Regions from separate parts of the Homo sapiens genome. Here all the other regions are linked to region 3. The links come from fine-mapping of genetic effects on gene expression. A gene starts in region 3. Each other region holds a variant in brackets. All regions are shown on one strand. Distances are between the middles of the regions.

What was found.
Region 1: its variant is fine-mapped to the expression of CMPK1 in whole blood (INTERVAL, PIP 0.97).
Region 2: its variant is fine-mapped to the expression of CMPK1 in thyroid (GTEx, PIP 0.98).

Annotation. Positions count from the first base shown.
Region 1 is chr1:47,381,829-47,384,589 of GRCh38, reverse strand. All of the region lies in intron 4 of LINC01389 (long intergenic non-protein coding RNA 1389), which reads left to right. Among named protein-coding and RNA genes, the nearest start is that of FOXE3, 33 kb to the left of the region's middle. The variant T/C (reference allele first, on the strand shown) is at 1,222.
Region 2 is chr1:47,385,447-47,388,207 of GRCh38, reverse strand. LINC01389 (long intergenic non-protein coding RNA 1389) reads left to right here. Exons shown (of 5, transcript NR_126355.1): 4 at 1,852-1,960. Among named protein-coding and RNA genes, the nearest start is that of FOXE3, 29 kb to the left of the region's middle. RefSeq lists a silencer at 1-251. The variant G/A (reference allele first, on the strand shown) is at 1,089.
Region 3 is chr1:47,332,290-47,335,050 of GRCh38, reverse strand. It overlaps CMPK1 (cytidine/uridine monophosphate kinase 1), which reads right to left and starts at 1,261. Exons shown (of 6, transcript NM_016308.3): 1 at 935-1,261. The coding sequence starts at 1,105. RefSeq lists enhancers at 139-198, 1-518, 519-1,322 and a silencer at 709-1,348.

The DNA of each region.
Region 1 (2,761 bases), 50 kb before region 3:
ATTGAACTATGGATGAGTGGGTGAGATTTTTCGCCCAAACATTGTTTTCTTATCCCTTTCTTTTTTTTTCTCCAAGATAGTCACATTGTAAGTCTTTTCATGAGTTGTGTACTGAAAACAGAGGGAAGCTGATGGGGTCCCAGTACTTTACGATTATCAGCTCCCAATCTTCAGGGGGAACGAAAATAGAATCCTAAGAGGTCACAAGCAGACTCTACTGGGATCCAAAATTCAGTGATATAACTTGTAGCTACAGCTACTGCCAAAAATATTTTTCCATTTCAGTTTATTTTTTCAACAAATATTGAGTGCCTACTATGTGCAGGCACTGGTCTAGGTATTGGAAAACAGGAATAAACAAGGTAAGTGCTCTTCTGGCACTTAAAATCTAGAGGGGAAATCAACAATAAGTAAAAGTAACTTCACATGGTGATATATGCACTGAGAAAATAAACAAGGGTAATAGACTAGTGATGGGAAGCACGGGGGGTATATTAGAGGTCACATTGCCTTATTACAGATAGGCAGCAGGGGCTACTGGACAGGAGGCAGATCTTTTTTTTTTTTTTGATACAGAGTCTCCATCTCAGGTAGGAGTGCAGTGGCGCAATCTTGGCTCACTGCAACCTCCACCTCCCAGGTTCAACCAATTCTCCTGCCTCAGCCTCCCAAGTAGCTAAGATTACAGGCGCACGCCACCATGCCCAGCTAATTTTTCTATTTTTAGTAGAGATGGGGTTTCACCATGTTGGCCAGGCTGGTCTCAAACTCCTGACCTCAGGTGATCTGCTCTCTTCAGCCTCCCAAAGTGCTGGGATTACAGGCATGAGACACCGCACCCAACCTGGGAGGCAGATCTTTAAGGCCCAGAGGTCTGGGTTCTAGTTCCAAACCCACCACTCTCTAGCATAAAGATTGTGGCAATTGACTTGAACTCTTTGGGCCTCAGTTTAATCATCCTTGAAACAGGAAAATCACCATTCCAACCTGCCTCAGAATTGCTGGGAAAAGAAAACAAAATCACAGAGGTAAAAAAGTTTGCCAGCAATGAAAGCACTACACAGAAACACAATCAGCTAAGAAACCACTGGATTTGAGCTTATCTAGTAAGCCTGTTGAGGGTAGTGGTTGTACATTAACTGACTGTTGTATCCGCAATGTCTCAAACATATTTTGAATGAATGGCCAGCCAAATTTTGTAATGTGATTATTTTGGTGCTA[T/C]TGTCATCCCTTGGTCCAGTGACAGTCACGTGGCCTAAGGCAGATGTGGACTACCTGCAACAAATCTGATTCCAGTCACAGGGGTCAGCATCTCTGAAAATTGGCTTGCTAGTGACCAGTTAGCTAAATTAAAATGACAGACCCTTGCATGAATGTGATTACAGACTGTGGTAATACCTCCTATGTGTACCTAGCTATTATTTCACCAACTAGCCATAATCTGTGTCATATAAAACAATGATTTGGCTGCTGACTATAAACAGCTACTTTCTTAAGTCAAATACATAAACAAAACTCAGAAATAGCCACAAAATTACTGAAACCACAAGTTAAAGATAAATGAAGATAGATGGTGTTAAGGAAATCACATTCCTTAATCCCATTTTCATCAACAAAATACTCGTGGAGAGAAGTGCGAGTGTGGCCTGTGAACCTGAAGACTTTTGAACAGATTAAGACACAGTGTTTTGTGGGAGTGATTATTGATAGAATAAAAAAGTTCCAGCAAGAACCATCATGTCCCCTGTGGCTGGTGGCTGAGCTGTGTGTCTCCTCCTCTGCTGCTACCATTTAAAAAAAAAAAAAAAGAAAAGAAAAGAAAAGAACAATAAAAAAGAAACATCACGTATAAAGTAGAACTAGATGGAACAAAATCCTGCTTCTCTATACAAATGGTTTTACTCTCATCCCATCACATCCCCTGCATTTCAGAATTTCCATTTGCACACAGTAGCAGCAGTGCAAGTCCAGGAGTTATCTTCTTTCCCCAGACAGCACTTATCCAGACCTAAGTAAAGGCCTTAAACAGAGAAAGGAAGGAAGGAATATAGATACAGTCTCTGCTCAATCATCTTTGATACTGAATATGACATAGACATTCTGACAGTTATTTTGGAACCAGGGGGATTTTGATGTAGCTGTTTCAACTTGTTCATTTTAATGTTTAAAGACTAATAAAAAATTAGTCTTTATTTATTTATTTATTTAGAGGCGGAGTCTTGATCTGTCGCCCAAGCTGGAGTGCAGTGGCATGATCTCGGCTCACTGCAACCTCCACCTCCCAGGCTCAAGTGATTCTCCTGCCTCAGCCTCCTGAGTAGCTGGGACTACAGGTGCACGCCACCATGCCCGGCTAATTTTATGTATTTTTAGTAGAGACGGGGTTTCACCATGTTGGCCAGGCTGGTCTCAAACTCCTGACCTCAAGTGATCTGCGGGCCTCAGCCTCCCAAAGTGCTGGGATTACAGGCGTGAGCCACCACACCCAGCCCCTAAAAAATGAGTCTTTATACTTCAGCATTTTCCCCTCCAAATCATGTAAATAATGTATCATTTGACTATTATCCCAGCTGAGGATAGAACAATGGTAGTGCTTATTGTGCACCTGGTTAATTAAAAAGAAAACAGTGTGACATTTTGTCAAGGACGTTTTGATGCAGTCTCTTCACAATCATACCTACTAGACTGGCCAAGTGTTGGCAGCTGTTTTGGAGCCATTTGTGAAAATCCTTCTTGATAAAACTAATAAACAACTTAGGTT
Region 2 (2,761 bases), 53 kb before region 3:
GCTCAAGGGACAGCTTACAGTGAAGAGGAGGAGGAGGAAAACGGAGCAGCCTCCTAAATCTAAAAAGCCCTTGTCAAACTGACTCATGCAGCCCAGCTTCCTAGTCTGGACTCAGCTAAACAGACACTGGATAAAATTCACCTTCCTTTACCTGTTATGAAAGGTTTATCGCTTTATCTTTGCATACTCCTATCTCCCATTATTTGGTGCATGGACCCTCACCCCCTCCAGCTAAGTGGGTCTCTCCTGTCCCTCACTGCTATCTTTTTGCTACTGCTGTTTCTCTCTTTTCCAATGCAAACTGGGCACCTCCTGCCCACCAACAGCATTAATGCCAGTAAACTTTGTTAAGCACTTATCCCAGGCACTGGGGAGGACACCCAGGGAGGGGGTGGGAGGCAGAAACAGAGGCTTAGGGAAACTTCTCAGCATTTGGGTTCTTATGGTAAGGCACAGATCCTCATGATGCCCCTTAGCCTTTCCTCCCCACTTGTATATACAGGGAACTCTTATGTGTCAGAGAGTATGTCTGGAATTCCAGGTGGACTTCAGACTTAGATACCTACTTGAAGAAGATGATCCCCAAACCACAGAATCTCCAGAGTGAAAGACTAAAGCATTCTGCCAAATAAGCATCCAGGGCCTGCGTGCACACTTCCAGGGACGGTGATCATGTCCTCAGGCGCTCCAATTCAGTGTTGGGTGGCTCTGACCTTAGACGGTCTTCCTTATGTTGTTTCCACTGCCCTAGTTCTGCCCTCAAGCCCACATTGAATACATGTACTCCATCTCCCTTCAGAGGATTGTAGACAGTGGTGGTAGTCCCCTGGCCTCTCCTCACCATTTTGTTTTTGGTTTTGATATGGAGTCTCACTCTGTCACCAGGCTGGAGTACAGTGGTGTAATCTTGGCTCACTGCAGCTTCCACCTCCTGGGTTCAAGCAATTCTCCTGCCTCAGCCTCCTAAGTAGCTGGGACTACAAGCACTAGTCACCATGCCTGGTTAATGTTTTGTATTTTTAGTAGAGACGGGGTTTCACCATGTTGGCCAGGTTGGTCTGGAACACCTGACCTCAAGTGATCCACCT[G/A]CCTCGGCCTCCCAAAGTGCTGGGATTACAGATATGAGCCACCGTGCCCAGCCTCTCCTCACCTTTTAAGACAGTGGCAGCTGCTAAGTAAGATTATAGAAAGCCCACTATGCCAAGCTGCCATCCATGTGACAACTCCCTTAGTGGGAGAGCATTTGTGATACTGTTGCATGCAGTACTTCCCTCTCACTCTGTGAGCTCAGGAATGGCAGCAGACTAAGCAGCTGTTTAATTTGTGAGCTTTCACTATGGTTTGTCACCAACTGTCAATTCATCAACACTAAGTACCTACTCTGTGCTAGACACTGTGGATAAAAAGACCAAGACTTTTTTTTTTTCAACTTTTATTTTAAATTCAGGGAATACATGTGCAGGTCTCTTAATGGTTATATTGCATGATGCTGAGGTATGGGGTACAATTGATCTTGTCACCCAGGTAGTGAGCATAATTCCCAATAGGTAGTTTTTCCTTGCCTCTCACTCTTTTGCAGCCCCCAGTGTCTATTGTTCCCATCTTTGTGTCCATGCGTACCCAATGCTTAGCTCCCACTTTTAAGTGAGAACATATATTTACTTTTGTTCCTGTATTAATTCGCTTAGGATAATGGCCTCCAGCTTTATCCATGTTGCTGCAAAGGGCATACTTTTGGGTTTTCTTTATGGCTGCATAGTATTCCAGGGTGTATATGTACCACATTTTCTTTATCCAGTCCACCGCTGAAGGGCACCTGACTTGATTCCATGTCTTTGCTATTGTGTATAGTGCTGCGATGAACTTATGAGTGAATGCATCAAAAAGACCAAGTTGAACTTATGAGCGAATGCATCAAAAAGACCAAGACTTGATCCCTTGCCCACAAAGATACAAGGCTGTGAGTTTTCATTATCTGCTCTGATCACTTTGTTTACTGTGGTGGTTCTCAAAGTATCAATATCAGTATCACTTTACACATAAAAGAAATGCAGGGCTGGGAGCGTGGCTCACGCCTATAATCCCAGCACTTTGGGAGGCCGAGGCAGGCGGATCATGAGGTCAAGAGATCGAGACCATCCTGGCCAACATGGTGAAGCCCGTCTCTACTAAAAATACAAAAATTAGCTGGGCGTGGGGCCACATGCCTGTAGTCGCAGCTACTCGGGAGGCTGAGGCAGGAGAATCGCTCGAACCCGGGAGGCAGAGGTTGCAGTGAGCCAAGATCGCGCCACTGCACTCCAGCCTGGCAACAGAGCGAGACTCTGGCTCTAAATAAATAAATAAATAAATAAGAGGCCAGGCGCGGTGGTTCATGCCTTCAATCCCAGCACTTTGGGAGGCAAAGGCAGGGGGATCACTTGAAGTCAGGAGTTCGAGACCAGCCTGGCCAACATGGTGAAACCCCACCTCTACTAAAAATACAAAAATTATCCAGGTGTGGTGGCATGTGCCTGTAGTCCCAGCTACTTGGGAGGCTGAGGCAGAATCACTTAAACCTGGGAGGCAGAGGTTGCAGTGAACCAAGACTGCACCACTGTACTCCAGCCCGAATGACAGAGTGAGACTCTGTCTCAAAAATAAAATAAAATAAAATAAAAGTAATTAAATTAGAATTTCTGGGGGCAGGGCCTGAGGCATTGGTTCTTGTTTTAAATATGGTTAAAAAGACATTCAACAAATGCTCAGCATACTGAATGAA
Region 3 (2,761 bases):
CAGATTGTCCATGAAGCCTTTTTTTCCCACAGTGTCAATGCAGCTAACCAACCATACATCTAGCTCAAAAATTGTTAAAAGAATTGAACTGGTAACCTGTCTCAAAGCAAAAGAAAAAAAAGTAACAGCATTTTACATTTGGGAGGTGTTTTATATCCTGAGAAAATCTGGGTTCAGAGACTCTTTTTACTGTATTACAAGGGCTAACTGAGGCTGGGAGACAGGAAGTGACCGAGGGCCGAGCGTGAGTTGGCAGCAGGGCCAAAGGTTGAAGCTTGATCTCAGAACAGCACTCCCGGCTTTCCCCATCCCCGACCCGGGCCGAGCCTCAGGGCTGGCTCCGCCCTAAAGCTTGCGGGGACGGGGCTCGAGAGTGCCAGCGGCAGCCCACAGCACGCCTAAAATAACACCCCGCCCCACGGGCCTCCTTTCTAGAGTAAAGACACGTTCGGTGACAGTGCGGAGTTTAGGGAACCAGAGGGAAGGCGCGGAGAAGAAAAATAGGTCTCTCCTTCAGACAACTGTGGGCGCACACGGCCTCTAACCCAAATCCGCGCTCCTGCTGCCTTCACCTGCCACACGATCAGCGACACGCTAACCTCTGCGCGCTGGGGGACCCCCAAAGGTTGGCCTCCGGGATCCCTCTCCCAGCCCACTCTAGAGACGAATCTGGTCCCCAAAATGTAAGAAAAGAAGGGGCGCAGGAACAAAGCGACCTCAAGCGGTGGCCCCCAAGGCGGGCGGGCGCGGACTACAAGTCCCGGCACGCCGCGCGCCGGCGGCCCTCGGCCACTGCCACGCGGGCGGCGCGGTGGCCGCCGGGACTCGTAGTCTGCGGCTCGGCGACTCCGCGGGGCGCGGACTAGGGGCGGCGGGACAGGCCGGCCCGCATCCCGTCAAGCCCCAAGGAGCCCGCCTGCTGCCCGGGCCTCACCTCGACGATGCGGGCGCACTGGGTCCCCTTGCCGGCGCCGGGGCCGCCGAGGACGAACACGACCAGCGGCTTCATGAGACGTGGAGAGCAGAGGAGAATCGGCCGGCGGGTCTGCAGCAGGAAGCTAAGGCCCAGGACGTGGAGCAGCCCGCTGCGGCAGCGGCTCAGCATACACCGCGCCTCGGCCGGACGCTGAGGGAGCTGACAGCGGCCGGCGCGGCGCGGGGCGGGGCGGGGAGGCGGCGGGAGAAAGGGGCGGGCTGAGCCGGCGCCCGCCGCGGCCCCGCCGCCGTGGCTGCCCGGGCGTCCGCGGCCCTGTCGGAAGGGGAGGAGCTTCGCACGGCGGCGGCGTCTCGGCGACACTCGTGCGGTCCGCGCCAGCTTTCCTCCAACCCTTGGGTGGTTATTAGTGCTTTCTGACTGCAGATATTTTATCCTGCGCCCTCAAGTGTCTGGTGCTGAGCTGGAGGCTGGGACGTGATCCGCGGGAGAGCAAAACCTATTGTCTCTGCTCGCAATGAGTTTCCATTCCAGCCAGTGAGGTATGGGGAGGTAGCCAGTGTGAATGAGTAAACACCAGTACATACAAAAGGCAGTACGATTTTGAAGAAATAACAAGTAGGACATAAGATGGCCAGGGTCGCCAGAGAAGGCTTCAGAAGAGGTGACATTCAAGCCAAGACAAAAGGATAGAAAAGAGCGAAACCAGGCAAACACCAGGATAGAGTGTCCCACAGAGAAAAGCATGTGCAAAAAATCTAAGTTGGTTTGGCATGTTAAAGCAATTGAAGGAAGGCCTGGCTGGGCGCGGTGGCTCACGCCTGTAATCCCAGCATTTTGGGAGGCTGAGGCAGGAGGATGGCTTGAGCCCAGGAGTTCGAGACCAGCCTGGACAACATGACGAGACCCCGTCTCGACCAAAAATTTAAAAGCCGGGCACCGTGACCCGTGCCTGTGATCCCAGCTACTGGGATGTTCACTTGAGCCTAGGAGCCGTAATAGCACCACTGCACTCCTGCCTAGGTGACAATGAGACTGCTTCAAAAAAAAAAAAGGAAAAAAGGCCAGTGACAGTGAGACCAGGGCTGAGTCAAATGAGGGGAGAATGGAAGGTGAAAAGTTGAGAAAGTGAGGTCGGTGGCAGATCAGGACTTTTGATTATGGAAAGGAATTTGGGCTGTATTCTAACAGCAATGGAAGCCCTTTAACTCCGTTCGCCTGCCCCCTTCATTAGGGAAGAATCTTAAGGGAGAAGAAAAGGAGACGTTCAAGAACTGAGCCTTGGTGCATACAGGCCTTTAAAAGGCCTTCTGGCCAACGTTAAGAGCTCATTTGATATTTGAGGTAACGGATTCAAAATAATTGAAGATGTTTGGCCATTCAGGCACAGGCAGAGAAGGCAGCTTGTTGCATTTACTGAGGGTTGGGATTTTGCCTGGCAAGTACAACAGAGAGAGGGGGCCAAGTGATGAGAGTGTTTGGAAGAGAATGTTCATGATGCTGTGTGTAGAATCAAAACCATACAGGAAAGCAAATAATGGCACATGAAGCCTGGTAGTGGAGGGGTTGGAGGGTGGTGGGGAAAGGGACCAATGTCTTAGAGCATTGGCCCAAGAAAGATTGCAGTGGGGTATATGAGCAAGTGCTCTGGCAGTATGGATGCTGCTGGTCTGAGTGGGATATTTGGAATTGAAATGTCCCAGCTTCTGAGTTTCTGATGATGCCAAGGTCCAGGGTGAGACCATGGGAATGGAAGACTGAGGCAGAATGCATGTCCTGTTTTTAGAACTAAGAGTCCAGGGTGTTAGATTTGTCGTACAGGTACAA